Regions from separate parts of the Homo sapiens genome. Here region 2 is linked to region 1. The links come from fine-mapping of genetic effects on gene expression. Tissue or cell type: esophagus mucosa. Region 1 holds a variant in brackets; the other region holds the start of a gene. All regions are shown on one strand. Distances are between the middles of the regions.

The links. PIP is the estimated chance that this variant, and not a neighbour inherited with it, causes the effect.
Region 2: DACT2 starts here. The variant in region 1 is fine-mapped to the expression of DACT2 in esophagus mucosa (GTEx, PIP above 0.99).

The regions. Positions count from the first base shown.
Region 1 is chr6:168,212,354-168,220,459 of GRCh38, forward strand. No RefSeq gene overlaps it. Among named protein-coding and RNA genes, the nearest start is that of DACT2, 100 kb to the right of the region's middle. RefSeq lists an enhancer at 2,591-3,091. The variant G/A (reference allele first, on the strand shown) is at 4,136.
Region 2 is chr6:168,315,567-168,323,672 of GRCh38, forward strand. DACT2 (dishevelled binding antagonist of beta catenin 2) reads right to left here and starts at 4,211. Exons shown (of 4, transcript NM_214462.5): 1 at 3,822-4,211. The coding sequence starts at 4,067. RefSeq lists a silencer at 6,960-7,128.

The sequences.
Region 1 (8,106 bases):
GTTTTGTTGGTGCCTATCCCATCGAGAATACAGAACAACAGACAGAGGACACTGGTGCTCACTGGCTAGCCAGGGGGGCAGCGGGGCAGCAGGCAGGGCCGGAAGGCGTGAGAGGGGCAGAGGCGCTGCAGGATCCCCAGTCTGGAGACGTAGTTTGGAACGTCTGGAGATCCCCAGTTTGGAACGTAGCACAGCGTGCGTGGGGGGCAGGGGGCAGGGAGCAGGAGGGTCCACACTTGCGTGGGGCAGGGGCGGGGTCTACACTTGTGTGGGGCGGGGGCGGGGTCTACGCTTGCGTGGGGCAGGGGCGGCGTCTACACTTGTGTGGTGTCTACACTTGCGTGGGGCAGGGGCGGGGTCTACACTTGTGTGGGGTGGGGGCGGGGTCTACACTTGCGTGGGCATCTGGAGGGTCAGGGAGGCTTCTCCGGACTTCATCCTGAAGGTGTAAATGCCACCCTCCTGCTGGGGTTCTGGAGGTTTCCTTGTGGTTCTGGGGTGGCCGGGGACCTGATGTGGGTCCTCATGCCCAGGGGGACCGAGGATCAGCCTGGGGCTGGGTGAGGGCCCGGATCTTGGAGGCTGCAGCTTAAACAGAGAAAAATGAGCGGATTTGAGAAATTTTCAGTTTCAGAGATGAAATTGACAGGCCAATGTGGTGAGTTGGAGCAGGAGGCTGAGATAGGGTGGAGCTTCCGAAAAAAGAAACAACATTTAGCTGAGATACAGCAGTACGCACAATGCCGAGCGCCTACTGAGTGTTCATGTTCCGGCAATTTCACCAGTCATTTTGTCTCTCAACCTCCATGGCGAGGGGGTTCTCTCTGCAGTCAGCCCCTCCCCAGACAGAGCCACCGCCTGGATCCGGGGATCTGAGGATGAAATCTCTGAGAGCCCCTCGTGGGCCCTGGAGGACAGATGAATCCGTGATGGGCAGCACGGATCCGGGGATCTGAGGATGAAAGCTCTGAGAGCCCCTCGTGGGCCCTGGAGGACAGGTGAATCCGTGATGGGCAGCACGGATCCGGGGATCTGAGGATGAAAGCTCTGAGAGCCCCTCGTGGACCCTGGAGGACAGGTGAATCCGGATGGGCAGCACCCCCTCAGGCCCATTGTGAGTGGGATCGCGTTGGCTTCCCCCATGGGAGATGCCACTGCAAAGTCCAAATGCCTGAAGAGCCCCGACGGAGCCACGCCAGCCGGTTCTTTCTCCCCGAGGCACCTGCTGAGCTGCCTCGTTGACTTCCCACCCCAGTGGTTTGGAAAATGGGATGCCCATCATTTGAGCTGTGACTTCTGCCCCCTCTCACAGCCGCGTTGTGTCTTCACTTCACATTAATGTTAAAAAAAAAAATAGGGGCTGGGCACGGTGGCTCATGCCTGTAATCCTAGCACTTTGGGAGGCCGAGGCGGGCGGATCACGAGGTCAGGAGATTGAGACTATCCTGGCTAACACGGTGAAACCCCATCTCTACTAAAAATACACAAAAAATTAGCCAGCCGTGGTGGCGGGCGCCTGCAGTCCCAGCTACTCTGGAGGCTGTGGCAGGAGAATGGCTTGAACCCTGGAGGCGGAGCTTGCAGTGAGCCGAGATCGAGCCACTGCACTCCAGCCTGGGCGACAGAGCGAGACTCCGTCTCACAAAAAAAAGAACAAAACAAAAAGGAAAGGCACGCGGCAAAGTCTCCAAGTACAACCTGTGACGTATTTTGCACTACTTACTCCATTCGATAGAAGCTGGAGAAAAAGGATGAGTGCCCCTGCCTGGAACCAGCCATGGCATTTACATCATGATGTCAGTTTGACTCAACGTCCGTCACTGCACTTACATCACTTCATAAGCAATTTCCCAACATTTCTGACGCTGTAGTCACAAAAAAGAAATAAGGAGTCATGCAGGTCAGGTTTTGAAAATAGATCTAAAACCCAAGGCTATACTTTCTAATAGCCAGTCATGCATAAGATTTAAAATTCTCCTCTTTCTAACACTTTTCCATGTAGATGTTCTTGTCCAGCCTCATCTCAGCAAGCTCAAATGAGAGTGAAAGGGGTATTGGTCTGATGTGGTCAGCAGATGTGGCCTTATGCCTCCATGGGTCACTCGCAGGTTTGATTGATGCTCGTTGACTTACGGACGTTTCTGCCTGAGCGCTGTCTCAGGCCTCCTGGGGCTCGCTCTCCACCAGCGATTCCTCCCTCAGTTTCCACGTTTGCTTCTGTGACCGGCCTTTCCTTGGGTGCGTAGAAATAGTCACATCTCATATGTGGTTAGAAAATTATCCCTCAGCACTGGGTCCCCTTCTTTCTCTAATTCTTGCCTTCCCTTCACAGCGAGTCTACTCAGGACAGCGCCGTGGCAGACACGCACGTGGCCAGGCCCCAGGGGAGCTGTTCACACTCTTGTCCACGTTTGCAATGTGCACGGGTGCAGCTCTGTGCAGCCACTCTGCCGGGCGACCCTTTCCCGGCACCTGCCCTGGAAGCCGCTGGGCCCTGTGTCTCTGCACTGCCTCCCATTGACACTGCTCTCACCGAGGTCCCTGGGGGTGCCTTTCACCCTTCCCCAGCCGCTTAACCACATCCGTACTCAGCATCTCTGCAGCACTCAATACTACTGACCATGGAAATCCCGGCTTCCTAGGCTTCGTGACCTTGGTGGAACTGGGTTTTCTCCTCCTGTCTGTGGGGCCTCTGTCCCTTCAATGCAGGTGTTCCTTGGGCTCTGTTCCTGCACCTGACCCCTCCCTCTCCCTGCACCTGACCCCTCCCTCTCCCTCTCATTTCCATGGCTCCAGTTATCACTTGTGCACCAAAAACTCCCAAGCACAAGTTCGACCAAATGACCTTCCCTGGAGAGCACCTGCCCTGCACGAGCCGCCTGGCGACCCTTTCTCCACCCCTGCCAGAGGGACCTCGCCAAACTCAGAGGTGAGCAGTCCTCCACCTTGCCAAACATCCTCTGGGCGTGGCAGGGAAGGTCGGATGCATGGGCAGGCGAGGGCCTTGCTGATCTGACCCCATCTACCCGTTCCCCTCCCCAGCCCAGTCACTCACCATTCCTGCCCCTCCAGGGAAGCCCTGGGCTCCATTTCACAGAACACATGAGCGTCCTAAGAAGATTCCGAGTTCTTTCATGTTCTCCTTCTGTGTACATGCTACTGTGGACAACCGCAGTGTCATTCATGACGCAGCTCCCGCTCCCTCTCTCTCCTCTGGAAGCTTCCATGACACCCTGTGTGGGGTGAGACCCCCACCAACCACCTGCCACTGTCGCACCCCACCTGCCCGTATCGGAGAAGGTACAGCCCCACCCCATCACGAACAGGAAGCCCACTGGACAGAGCTACATCTGACACCGTAGGGCCCTCCCTTTCGGTATCTTCCAAACGGCTCATTGTCGATTAAATAGGAAATCATTAAGAGAAATACCGACAGAAACTAAATATTTCCATGGCCACTTAGACACAATACTAACTAAATATTTCCATGGCCACTTAGACACAATATTTTTTGGGGGACTCAGGCTTTTTCTCCGGCAGGAACTCACTGGGGTTTGTGTCTTTCTTGCATGAACAAATGCCGAATGACTCCGACAATTTTCTGCTCATTTCCGCAGAGTAGGGTGAGGACTTCACAACCCTGCAGAGACAAACACGCTTTGGGACTTTTATGATTTCTCCATCTGCTCCTAAGTCAACAGCAATTTTTGTAAAGCAGACAGAGTTTCTATCTTTCCAAAGCATTCACCTTAGTTTTTGAGAGAAACAAAGCTCTCTCCTTTCATGCTCTGCATCTTAGATATCATATTAGCATATTGTATTAATCACCTCCAGTCTTTTCTCTTTGATCACATTTTTTCACTAATAACACATGTGACTTCAAGCACAGTTTAAATGAACTACCTAATTTGTAACAGAGTAAATGGGAATTCTTCAGGAATTCCTGACCCCAGGTGGTCACTGAGGGACCTCGCTTCTTTCGGAGCAGCATGGGAACCTCTTGTCGGCTCAGGGCTGTCTGCGTCCAGACCCCAAACACCTCGCCCTGCTGTCTTTCCTCACAGCAGCCCCATCATTTGCAACTCTCTGCTTTCATTTGCCTATCATCTTTCTTTCCTTCCAGAACATGAGAATC[G/A]TGAGGACAGGGACTTTTGTCTGTTTACATTATCACTGTGTATAACTACACTAAAGAGCAATATTTCAGGTGCCTGATACATAAATATTTGTTGAATAAATAAATTTTCCTTTTTACTCATCTCACCATCAGATGGAGTTTGCATTCATTAAAAATTAGGTTTGGCTCTCGTTACAGATATTCAAAATGTCAGGAGTTTAAACAGGGCAGAAGTTTATTTCTGTCTCTCTTGAAGGTCAGGTGCAGAGACTTCGGGGCTGGTCACAGAGCCCAGACTGCTCTGGGAATTTGTGGGCCAGGACGCAGCCTCGGGCAGGGCTCCCGGAGCCGTGCCCCCATTTCTTTCCCATCCTTTGTCCGGAAATTACACACATGGCCGCACTTACTGCGATGGGCGGGAGAATGTGGTTTTCATTCCAAGAGGCCGCTGTTTTTCCTGTAGACAGTGGGTAGAACAATTAGCAGCAAGAAGCACCCTGCTGCAAGCTTGCCTGTGTGATGAGGTGGAGAGGCACTGAATGCCCCTTCCTCGTCACTGTGCTCACTTTGGTGGAGGCTTATCATGATCGACTAGGACAATTTTCTAGCATGTCTGCACCGAATCTCTTCCCGATAGAATTGAAGGTGAACTCAGGGCAGCATGGAGTGCCCACCTGGCCTCCTCCCAGTGTGTCTGCGTCTCCGCTTAGTCTCCGAAGTGAGTTGTTTGGTTGCATGTGGATCGGCCTTTGGATGGGAAGGGTCAGGAACCCTCACTGGATGACCCTCGCTTTCCAGAGGCGGCACAGGACAGAAATCACACCTGCCCTGTCGAGGGTGGACAGAGTTCATGTGGAGCCTGGGATTTGGGTGGGTGATGGGGGCGGGGGACTTTTCATAGGTTCAGCAGAAGAGGAGGGTGAGGGAGGGCACAGGGCGAGCCAGGCCGCGCGTCACGGGCAGGACACGGCCGCTTCCCTTCCAGGTCTCCTGCTGGTGGGAACAGGAGCGCATGTGCCCGGGAAGCTCGGTGGATAAAGGCTGTCGCTCGCGCTTGTTTGGGAAACTGGGGGGAAGTCCTGATGAAAAAGGGGTGCCTGGGAGTGGGCTGGAAGAGCTTTAAAATGCCAGGCTGCTGGGGTAACTGTGGGGTGTGGGATGCCCGGGCTCCCCAGACCCCTTCGTCAGCAGCTTCGCGTGGCCTCCTTCATTCATACATCCCCAAGCCACAATGGAGCAAGGCAGAGAACTGCTGTGGCCCCGAGGTAGGGGGAAGAGGGTCCGGAGTGGCTCCAGGCACCTACAAATGTCTCCTAGGGATGGGGTCTTTGAGGACCTCAGGCTGCCTTTCCCATCACCTGTTTTAGTGACCTTCGTATCTTCTCTTTTTAATTTTTATTCTTCTGAAATCAGCCTATTTAGGAAGTACAGTATAATACCTATAAATATTCTCAGCCTCGGAAAGATTTACTTTTATAAAATACACAACTAAATAAGTCGTGCAAAACATCTGATGTAAGATATTTATAATACAGGCCTCTCCCTGAGCTAGTGGTGCCTGGAGCCAGGGTTCCCAAGAGTCCCGGGACCCAAGTGCACATCACAACCTGCAGAAGAATCAACACCTCATTCAGACACTTAACCCTGTGATGTCAATATCTGTAGATACACATGAGATTGGCAAAGTAGAGATGTGTTTTCAGAGTCCTCTTGATTTCACAGTGGCTTTTTGTCATTTTTTTTGGTTGTTCATTTCAATTAGTGGACAGTAAGAACACCTGTGCTACCCGTGAGCAGCCAGCACAATGTATTCTGACATCAAACAGCTCCTTAGAAAGTCTGGGAACCCTGCCATGAGACGTCATGCAAATCCAGTTGAGAGTCCTTTGTCTCTTATGATTCTAAACAAAAGTACCACCTTCTTCAGGGAAAGTGGAATTGACCCACCCTGTGACCGGCAAGTGCCCGCTGGAGGGCACCTTCCCTGGGGGGTAGTTTAGTTTTCCTTTCAATGCCGTGAACAGTTTCACTTCCGATTAAGCACCAAAGCAAAAGATATACAGAAATAGTTCATTTGGAAGAGGATGGAGTCAAATCAGCTGTTTTTCTTTTTATTATACTTACTATAATTTAAAAAAATCCTAAATGAAGGCGACATGGAGAGATTTCCTCCTGTTAGGGACGGGCCTGACATCGCGCATCTCAGGTCTTCTGTGCAGGCAGAATCCACGGCGAAGACGTGCCTTGTTCATCACCTGTGCAGAGAACGAAGAAAGCAACCTTCATGCTTCCCTTTCTCACTAGAAAAACAAAAGCATGAGTCTGGAATCTATGCAACGTGATATTGTTTTAGAAACTGCGGAAATTTCTGTTTCTATTCTGGGGTGTTTTCCAAGCACCACGATGGTAGCACAACGCTCACCTGCCCCAGCTTGATTCGTCAGATTTCACCAGCTCACTGCACAGGATGCATAGGTGGTGCACAACAGCGTGTGCAGCTTACTGCTTATAAATCAACTAGCTTGCTCATAAGACACCGTTACTGCAGACTTTTTAATCTCTCTTACCCTACCCCTGGGAAAAGGACTGGTAAGTGTAACGTTCATGAAGTATCTTGCATAGGCAAGGATTTACTCAAATGCCAAACTCAACTTAAACCTGAGTTTTTCAATGCTAAGCATTGGGAGGCCTGAACCAGCTCCTATCTGAGGCAGCATTAACATGCTTGCCCTTCATACTAAGAGAAATATTCACTTTCTCTAGGGATGAGGAGTGGTTAGCAGAAGGAAATCAAACTTTTCTGGAAATGATTTCAGCATATTCATCTTGTAAGAATGTCTTCTGATATAATGCTTAAAAAAACAAGTGAATGTGAGAGTTGCTTTACACAATTCCCCCTGGGTTTTAGGAATTTCACCAAATACAGTCTGGGGACCTGGAGTCTTTCTGCCTGGTCAGTCCTGGAGGTGGAATCTGGAAACAGCCTTGGATCGCAGCCTTCCACTGCTGGGCTCGGCCCTCCATTGGGTCCCCCCTTCACCCCACGCCCTTTCCCAGAGGCCTCCTGCTTCTGGAACCGGAAATGTTCATTTTGGTGGGGCCGTGATTGGTGGGCTCAGAGCCAGAATTTCCCATCTCAACTGCCCTTTGAAAGACAACGGCAAGAGGGACCCAGGTGACATGGAACAGAGCTGTGTGCCTGCCAGGGAGAAAGTCTATGTACAAGGAATGCTGTGAGCCATCTCCGCTTCCAGTGGGCAAGACCAGAAGTCACCTGAACTGTGAACCTGGTGGGTCCTCTGGCCTCTGCCTCTCAGCCACTCTTTTGTGAAGAGTAAATGAAACAGCTTCTGCACAGAGCCCAGCGCTATGCTGGGTGCATCATACACATTTCAGAAAATGTACCCTGACCACAGCATGAGCCATGGTGCCCACAGAAAACACAGAGTGTGCCCGGTGGGACCTTCAGAAATGGGCGGAGTCCCCTTTGCCTCTCCCCAGTCTCTGCATCCGTTCCCATTGGGCGTGTTATCGGATGAACGCAGAGGGCTGAAGCGCTCTGGCTTTTCATTGTGGGTTTTTGAGCCAATGTAAAGACATTTGTTCCCATGGACCCTGGATTTTCAGAGACACCCAGATATCAGGAGCGGCACAGCTGGCGTTCTGTGGAAAGTCATACCAATTATTTATGATCTAATGCTTTTAGATTAGAAAAATCAACAATATCACATCTGGGGAAATAGTTGTTATGGTCCACTGTGTGATAAAAAATACAAATGATCCAAGATCCTAAGAAATATAATATTCAATAAACAGGATGTCTGCATTCTAGTGTTTTCTTTCAATTTATGTTAAGGCCTTTGTGGAATCAATGTGACTTGGTGTAGAGATGGGTTGCCCCCACTGTCAATCACTTTCAAGAGCTTTGCTACCTCCTCCTCCCAGCCTCTCCTCCTAGGAAGCATCTGAAGCTCCTGGGGCTCCCTGGAGGC
Region 2 (8,106 bases), 100 kb after region 1:
TCATCTATTTATTCAGCAAAATCCTACTAAGCACCCTCTACTGCACTCTCTTGTGGCACAGTAATTAAAACGCTGCAGCACATTGCGACAAGCCTTGAAGTGATGAGTGCTGCTATTTTCCTGACTGTTTAAATCCCTGCAAATGGTAACAATCGTTCTCACCTGAGAATTCCTGCAGGCTAAATCTGCTCAAGGTCTGATAAATGTTCTTCCTGCCTTCACACCTGAATGATGACCAATGGACAGGTGAGCACCAGGGTGGGCGGAGGGAACCCTGAGTTAGCCGGGAGCTGCTGGAGTGTGTAACTGTTCCAGCAAGCAAGGCTGTTCATTGTATTCAACACTATAGAACTGCTATCACTCCTAATGTTTTTCCCTGTAAGAAAAATGTAAAAGTGTTAAGCCCTGGGCTGATGTCACACAAATTCAATTATTCTTCTCTTTTGATCACATAATCTGTCCCGAGAACAAAGTTTCAAAACAAAGTCTGCGTGTTCCTTCTGGTCCCCACATTAAAAAATAATAATAAAATAAACAAAAATCTGTTTGATCTTCTCTTCCAAAAGGCTACTTGTAATTAGAGACTGAGCGCTTGCAAGTTTGATTTGTATATTTCTTAAGCCAAGTTAATCATCACCTGCACTCCCACCCCCTTGACAGAACAGTTGAAGCCAGCATCTCGGCAGCACCTCCCTTCCCATGTGTGTAACACGTCTGTGGCTGTCGTGTGCTGAGCTGAGGTCACGCAGAAGCTGCGATTGTGTCTGGTGCAAACACACAACAGCATCTCAGCAGCACCTCCCTTCCCATGTGTGTAACACGTCTGTGGCTGTCGTGTGCTGAGCTGAGGGCACGCAGAAGCTGCGATTGTGTCTGGTGCAAACACACAACAGCATCTCAGCAGCACCTCCCTTCCCATCACGTGTGTAACACGTCTGTGGCTGTCGTGTGCTGAGCTGAGGTCACGCAGAAGCTGCGATTGTGTCTGGTGCAAACACACAACAGCATCTCGGCAGCACCTCCCTTCCCATGTGTGTAACACGTCTGTGGCTGTCGTGTGCTGAGCTGAGGTCACGCAGAAGCTGCGATTGTGTCTGGTGCAAACACACAACAGCATCTCGGCAGCACCTCCCTTCCCATGTGTGTAACACGTCTGTGGCTGTCGTGTGCTGAGCTGAGGTCACGCAGAAGCTGCGATTGTGTCTGGTGCAAACACACAACAGCATCTCGGCAGCACCTCCCTTCCCATGTGTGTAACACGTCTGTGGCTGTCGTGTGCTGAGCTGAGGTCACGCAGAAGCTGCGATTGTGTCTGGTGCAAACACACAACAGCATCTCGGCAGCACCTCCCTTCCCATGTGTGTAACACGTCTGTGGCTGTCGTGTGCTGAGCTGAGGTCACGCAGAAGCTGCGATTGTGTCTGGTGCAAACACACAACAGCATCTCGGCAGCACCTCCCTTCCCATGTGTGTAACACGTCTGTGGCTGTCGTGTGCTGAGCTGAGGTCACGCAGAAGCTGCGATTGTGTCTGGTGCAAACACACAACAGCATCTCGGCAGCACCTCCCTTCCCATGTGTGTAACACGTCTGTGGCTGTCGTGTGCTGAGCTGAGGTCACGCAGAAGCTGCGATTGTGTCTGGTGCAAACACACAACAGCATCTCGGCAGCACCTCCCTTCCCATGTGTGTAACACGTCTGTGGCTGTCGTGTGCTGAGCTGAGGTCACGCAGAAGCTGCGATTGTGTCTGGTGCAAACACACAACAGCATCTCGGCAGCACCTCCCTTCCCATGTGTGTAACACGTCTGTGGCTGTCGTGTGCTGAGCTGAGGTCACGCAGAAGCTGCGATTGTGTCTGGTGCAAACACACAACAGCATCTCAGCAGCACCTCCCTTCCCATGTGTGTAACACGTCTGTGGCTGTCGTGTGCTGAGCTGCAAACACACAACAGCATCTCGGCAGCACCTCCCTTCCCATGTGTGTAACACGTCTGTGGCTGTCGTGTGCTGAGCTGAGGTCACGCAGAAGCTGCGATTGTGTGTGGTGCAAACACACAACAGCATCTCGGCAGCACCTCCCTTCCCATGTGTGTAACACGTCTGTGGCTGTCGTGTGCTGAGCTGAGGTCACGCAGAAGCTGCGATTGTGTCTGGTGCAAACACACAACAGCATCTCGGCAGCACCTCCCTTCCCATGTGTGTAACACGTCTGTGGCTGTCGTGTGCTGAGCTGAGGTCACGCAGAAGCTGCGATTGTGTCTGGTGCAAACACACAACAGCATCTCGGCAGCACCTCCCTTCCCATGTGTGTAACACGTCTGTGGCTGTCGTGTGCTGAGCTGAGGTCACGCAGAAGCTGCGATTGTGTCTGGTGCAAACACACAACAGCATCTCGGCAGCACCTCCCTTCCCATCACATGTGTGTAACACGTCTGTGGCTGTCGTGTGCTGAGCTGAGGTCACGCAGAAGCTGCGATTGTGTCTGGTGCAAACACACAACATCTCAGCAGCACCTCCCTTCCCATCACATATGTGTAACACGTCTGTGGCTGTCGTGTGCTGAGCTGAGGTCACACAGAGGCTGCGATTGTGTCTGGTGCAAACACACAAACGACCTAAACAGACGGCCAGGATTTGGTCACTGGGTGAGTAAACAAAGTCTGTACACCAGCTACTTTCCTCTCAGGAGGCATCAGGGGCAGAGTTGGGGGCCCAGGTTAATCCCACACAGTCTACCACCTCCGTCTTCCACAAGGTCAGGAGATAACGGGGAACCTGGGAGGCGTCCCAGACACTGGACTTCCTGATTCTTTAATCCAGAAGGGTTTGCTATGTTAACAACCTGGCTGAGCGAGCGAGGCAGACGGTCATGCCGCAGCTTCACCTGGGCAACATTTAAAGGCAGTAACTTTTAACAGGACAGACTTAAATTTCTAATGTAAAAGAAATTTCACTTAGTGTAACAGAGGTAACACAAGTAAACATATCTTTCTCCAGCCTTTTTAGTTTGTCTTTAAGAAAATACAGCAACTACGAAAACGCTTGTGAGTTGTTTCCAGTAAGTTTAACAAAATCATACAATAACATAATAAGCAGAGGGGTAATGAGTGGAGTTCCTTTCATTGTGTGAAAGGAGGGGTTCAGAGCGCCCAGGGAGTGCTGAAGAGGGCCCGTGGCAGGGAAATCAGAGTCTCTCTCCTCTGGATCAGAGGACACGCCTCTCCTTACAGGTCAGGTCACATTTTAAAGTTGAAGAGGCCTTTGTCAGTTACATGCTTTCCCCCAATACTTTATTACAGTGACGCGACCTTAAGAAAAGTCAGCACATTCCTGAGGACAAGTCGGGGTGCGCTTTACCACGCGGACACTGTTGCCCCTAACCCAAGACAGCAGGGGGGACCTGGTCCCCGGGGGGGGAGTGATGCCAGGATCCCGAGCCGACCTCCGCCAGGGGAACGCCGGTCAGTGCCTGCAGGTCAGATCAGTGCTGTAACCCTGTAACGAACAGGGTGTCTCTCCCAAATCTGCCAGCTTCGGGATGCTGGCGTGGGTAGGCGCACATCCACGCACGGCGGAGCGCGGGCTGCAGCCCCGGGCAGTTTTCAGGGTCCTCACCTGTGCGCTTCACCTCTAGGCACCTGCGCGCGGGGCCTCCATGTCCCCCTCCTTGGAGACCGAACTGCATTCCATTCAAATCCCAAAGGACGTCCCCTCCATCCATCAGACACCCCCGTCCCACTAACACACAGTCGCTGCCGAAGGAGCAGCGCCTGTGGCCCGCACACCTCGCAGCCCCGAGTCCCGGCGCCCGGTCCTTACCAGCTGCTCCTGCAGCGCGGCCAGCGCCGCCTCCAGCTGCTGCTCGGGGCCGTGGAGGCCGTGGGGGCCGCAGGGCGCGGCGGGCGCGGGCGGGGGCTGCAGGGCCAGGGCGCCCCGTACCCGCTCCTGCTGCGTGGCTCGCAGCCCCTGCAGCTCCTGCAGCCCCGCGAACGCCGCGCGCAACCTCGCGCCCAACCTACGGCGGTCCCAGCCCGCGGACCCCGGGGGTCCGCCCGGCGTCCACATCTCCCGGGCAGGGTCCCGGCCTCCCGAACCCCACGAGCGGCGCCGGAGGCCCAGCGCGCGCGGATCCCGAGCTGTGTCGCGGGTCCTCCTGCGCCTCCTCTCTCCGCCCCCGGCTCCGCAGGTCGCCAAGGTGGGCTGGAATCTGTGGCCAGGCGCGGAGGGCGGGGTCTGCACGCGCCCCGAGGTCACCGCGGCCTCCCCCGGACCCGCCCCGCCGACCCCCCAGGGCCCCTCGCCGGCTGCGGGCAGGGCGGGCGCACCCAGACCCCGGGGCCAGCTGAGCGCCTCCGTGACTTCAGCGGGGAGGGCCAGCCGGGAGGAGGAGCCCGGGGGAGAGGGGCAAAGAGGCGCAAGTGGAACAAAGGCGGAGAAAGGCTTGTTAATGTTTTAAAATGTTTATAAAGATAAACTATTGGGACATTATCACATTGCAAGGACCGTGTTACCATTACAGACGCAGTAGAGATTTCAAAACCGTGTTACCCACGTTTCCCAATGGGTATCTGCAGTTTGGAAACCGCACCTCGCTTTTTTTTTTTTTTTTTTTTTTTTTTTTTTTTTTTTGAGACAGTGTCTCGCTCTGTCGCCCAGGCTGGAGTGCAGTGGCGCGATCTCCTCTCACTGCAACCTCTGCCTCCCGGGTTCAAGCGATTCTCCTGCCTCAGCCTCCCGAGTAGCTGGGACTACAGGCGCCTACCACCATACCTGGCTAATTTTTGTATTTTTAGTACAGATGGGGTTTCACCATGTTGGCCAGGCTGCTCAGCTTGCTTTTTAAATTTTTAAAATAATTGCTTAAGATGCAGTTCACATACCATAAAACTCACCTAATTTAAGGTGTACAGTTCGTTTTTAGTATATTAACGAAGTTGTGTTCACCACCCCCAAAAGAAACCCTGTTCTCATCGGTAGCTACCCCCATTCCCTCTCCTGCACCCCCACACATAGAACCACCACCCCGCAGGTTCTGGAAGTTCATGGAAATGGGGTCACACGCCAGGAGGTCTCTGTGGGGGCTCCTTTTGGTGAGCGTTTTCAAGGTGCGTCTGTGCTGCAGATTGCGTCAGAACTGTATTCCTTTGTGTGGCTGAATAATACTCCACTGCATGGCTGTGCCAAGTTTTGTTTATCCATTCATCTGCTGATGACATGTGAGTTGTTCCATTTTTTAGCTATTACGAATAACGCTGCAAGGACATTCCTGTATGAGTTTTTGTGTGGCAATATGTTTTCATTATACCTAAGAGAGGAATGGCTGGATCGTAGGTGACTACCGTGCTTAATCTTGTGAGGAGCTGCCAGGCTGCTTTCCAAGTGGAATCACAGCAGCCAGCGGGGTATGAGGGTTCCATTTCCTCAGTGTGCACACCAACCGCTGTCTTTAGTCCAGCAGATGTGAAGTGGTATCTCCCTGTGGTTTTGATTTGTGTTTCCCCGATGGCTAAGGACGTTGAGCATCTTTCCATGTGCTTGTTGTATACTTCCTTTGGAGAACTGTCTATTCAGATCCTTGGCCCATTTTAAAATTTAGGTTGTCTTTTCGTTATTGAGATGTGAGTATTCATTATACAATTCCCTTATCAGACATGATTTGCACTTCCCTTATGAAATACATGATTGACAAATAATTTTTCCATGTTGTGAGTTTTTTTCATGTTCTTGATAGTGTCCTTTGCAGCAAAAAATGTTTGTAATTTTGGTGAATTCCAGTGTATCTACTTTGTTGTTGTTCCTTATGCTTTGGGTGATCTAACAGAGCATTGTCTAATCCAAAGACAAAGTTTACAGCTATGATTTCTAAGATTTTGCTGTAGACTTAGCACTTACATTTAAGCCTTTGTTCTATTTTGCATTAATTTCTGTATATGGTGTGAGGTAGGGGCCCCTTCTTTTACATACCCAGTTGTCCTAGTACCATTTGTTGAAAAAACAATTCTTTCCCTGTTGAATTGTCTTGGGACCCTTGTTGAAAATCAGTTGATCCAGAAATCAGTTTCTGGTTTCTCAGTTCTGTTGCGTTGCAATATATGTCTATTCTTATGCCAGTACCACACTGTTTCAATCATTGTAGCCTTGTAATAAGTTTTGAAGTCAGGAAATGTGAGTCCTCCAATTTTTTCTTTTCCAAGATTGTTTTGGCTGATCTGTGTCTTTTGATTCTTTTTTCTTCTTCTTCTTCTTCTTCTTCTTCTTCTTCTTCTTCCTCTTCCTCTTCCTCTTCCTCTTCCTCTCCTTCTCCTTCTCCTTCTCCTTCTCCTTCTCCTTCTCCTTCTCCTTCTCCTTCTCCTTCTCCTTCTTCTTCTTCTTCTTCTTCTTCTTCCTCCTCCTTTTTGAGACAGGGCCTTACTCTGTTGCCCAGGCTGGAGTGCAGTGGTGCGATCTTGGCTCACTGCAACCTCCATCTCCTGGGCTCAAGCAATTCTCCTGCCTCAGCCTCCCAAGTAGCTGTGATTACAGGTACATGCCACCACGCCTGGCTAATTTTTGTATTTTTAGTAGAGATGGGGCTTGGCCATGTTGGCCAGGCTGGTCTCTAACTCCTGACCTCAGGTGATCCGCCTGCCTGGCCTCCCAAATTACAGGTGTGAGCTGCTACTCCTGGCCCGTGTCTTTTGATTTCTATATGAATTTTAGTATCAGCTTGTCAATTTCAGCAAAGAAGTCATCTGGGATTTGGATGGGAATTGCAACTAAATTTGTTTACCTATTGCAGGTATTGCTACCTTAAGATTAAATCTTCTGAACCATAAACATAGGATGTCTTTCCACTTATTTAGGTCTTCATTAATTTCTTTCGACAGTGCTTTGTAGTTTTCAGCATAGAAGTCTTGTACTTGCTTAATTTATTTCTAAGTATTTTATTATTTTTGACACAATTGTACATGGAATTGTTTTCTAGTTTTATTTTCAGAACATTCATTGTTAGTGTATAAAAATTAAATATTGATTGGAAGGCCAGGCATAGTGGCACACACCTGTAATCCCAGCACTTTGGGAGGCAGAGGCACGTGGATCATTTGAGCTGAGGCATTCCAGAGCAGCCTGGGTAACATGGCAAAACCCTGCCTCTACCAAAAATACAAAAATAGCCAGGGTATGGTGGCATGCACCTGTAGTTTCAGCTACTCAGGAGGGAGGCTGAGGCTAGAGGATCCATTGAACCCAGGAGGTCATGGTTACAGTGAGCTGTGTTTGCACCACTGAACTCCAGCCAGACAACAGAGTGAGACCCTGTCTCAAAAAGAAAAAAAAAGATTCTTGTATATTGATTCCTACAACTCTGCTGAACTTGTTTATTAGTTCTAATAGTTGTGTGTGTGTGTGGGTGTGTGTGTGTGCATGTGAATTTATTTGTACTTTCTACCTAGAAGCTCATGTCATCTGGAAATAGAGACAGTTTTACTGCTTTCTTTCCAGGATGGGTACCTTTTACTTCTTTTACCTGCCAAGTTGTTCTGGCTACAACATCTAACACCATGTTGAACAGAAAGGGCCAAAGAAAACATTCAGTCTTTCCTGTTAAGTATGACGTCAGCTGTGGGTTTGTCTTAGATGCCTTTTAAAGATAGAGAGAGATGAAGATAGTGACAGAGAGAGAGACAGACTGGAGGTGAGCCCTTTATCAGTTATGTCTTCTCCCTGTATGTGAGCTCTCTGAATCGTGTCCTTTGGTAAACAGAAGGTCTTAATTTTTACATAGTCTTATTTATTATTAATCTTTTTGTGCCCTTTTGAAGAAATGTTTACTCACCCAGGTTATTGAAGACATTACCTAATGCTGTCTTCTAGAAACCTTATCATTTTGCCTTTCTTATCTAGATCTATAATCCACCCAGAATGGCTTTTCATGTGCTGTATTTGGAGGAGGTGTCACAATTTACTTGTTTTTAAGCACATATTCCAGTGCAATATTTATTGAAAAATCTTGTCCTTTTTGAACTCTTGCATGTTGCCGCCACCTTTGTCCTGAGTAAAATATCTGTGTGTTTTCCGGAATGTTCTGGGTCTTAGTCTCCATGTGGCTAGTGCATCTGTCTGT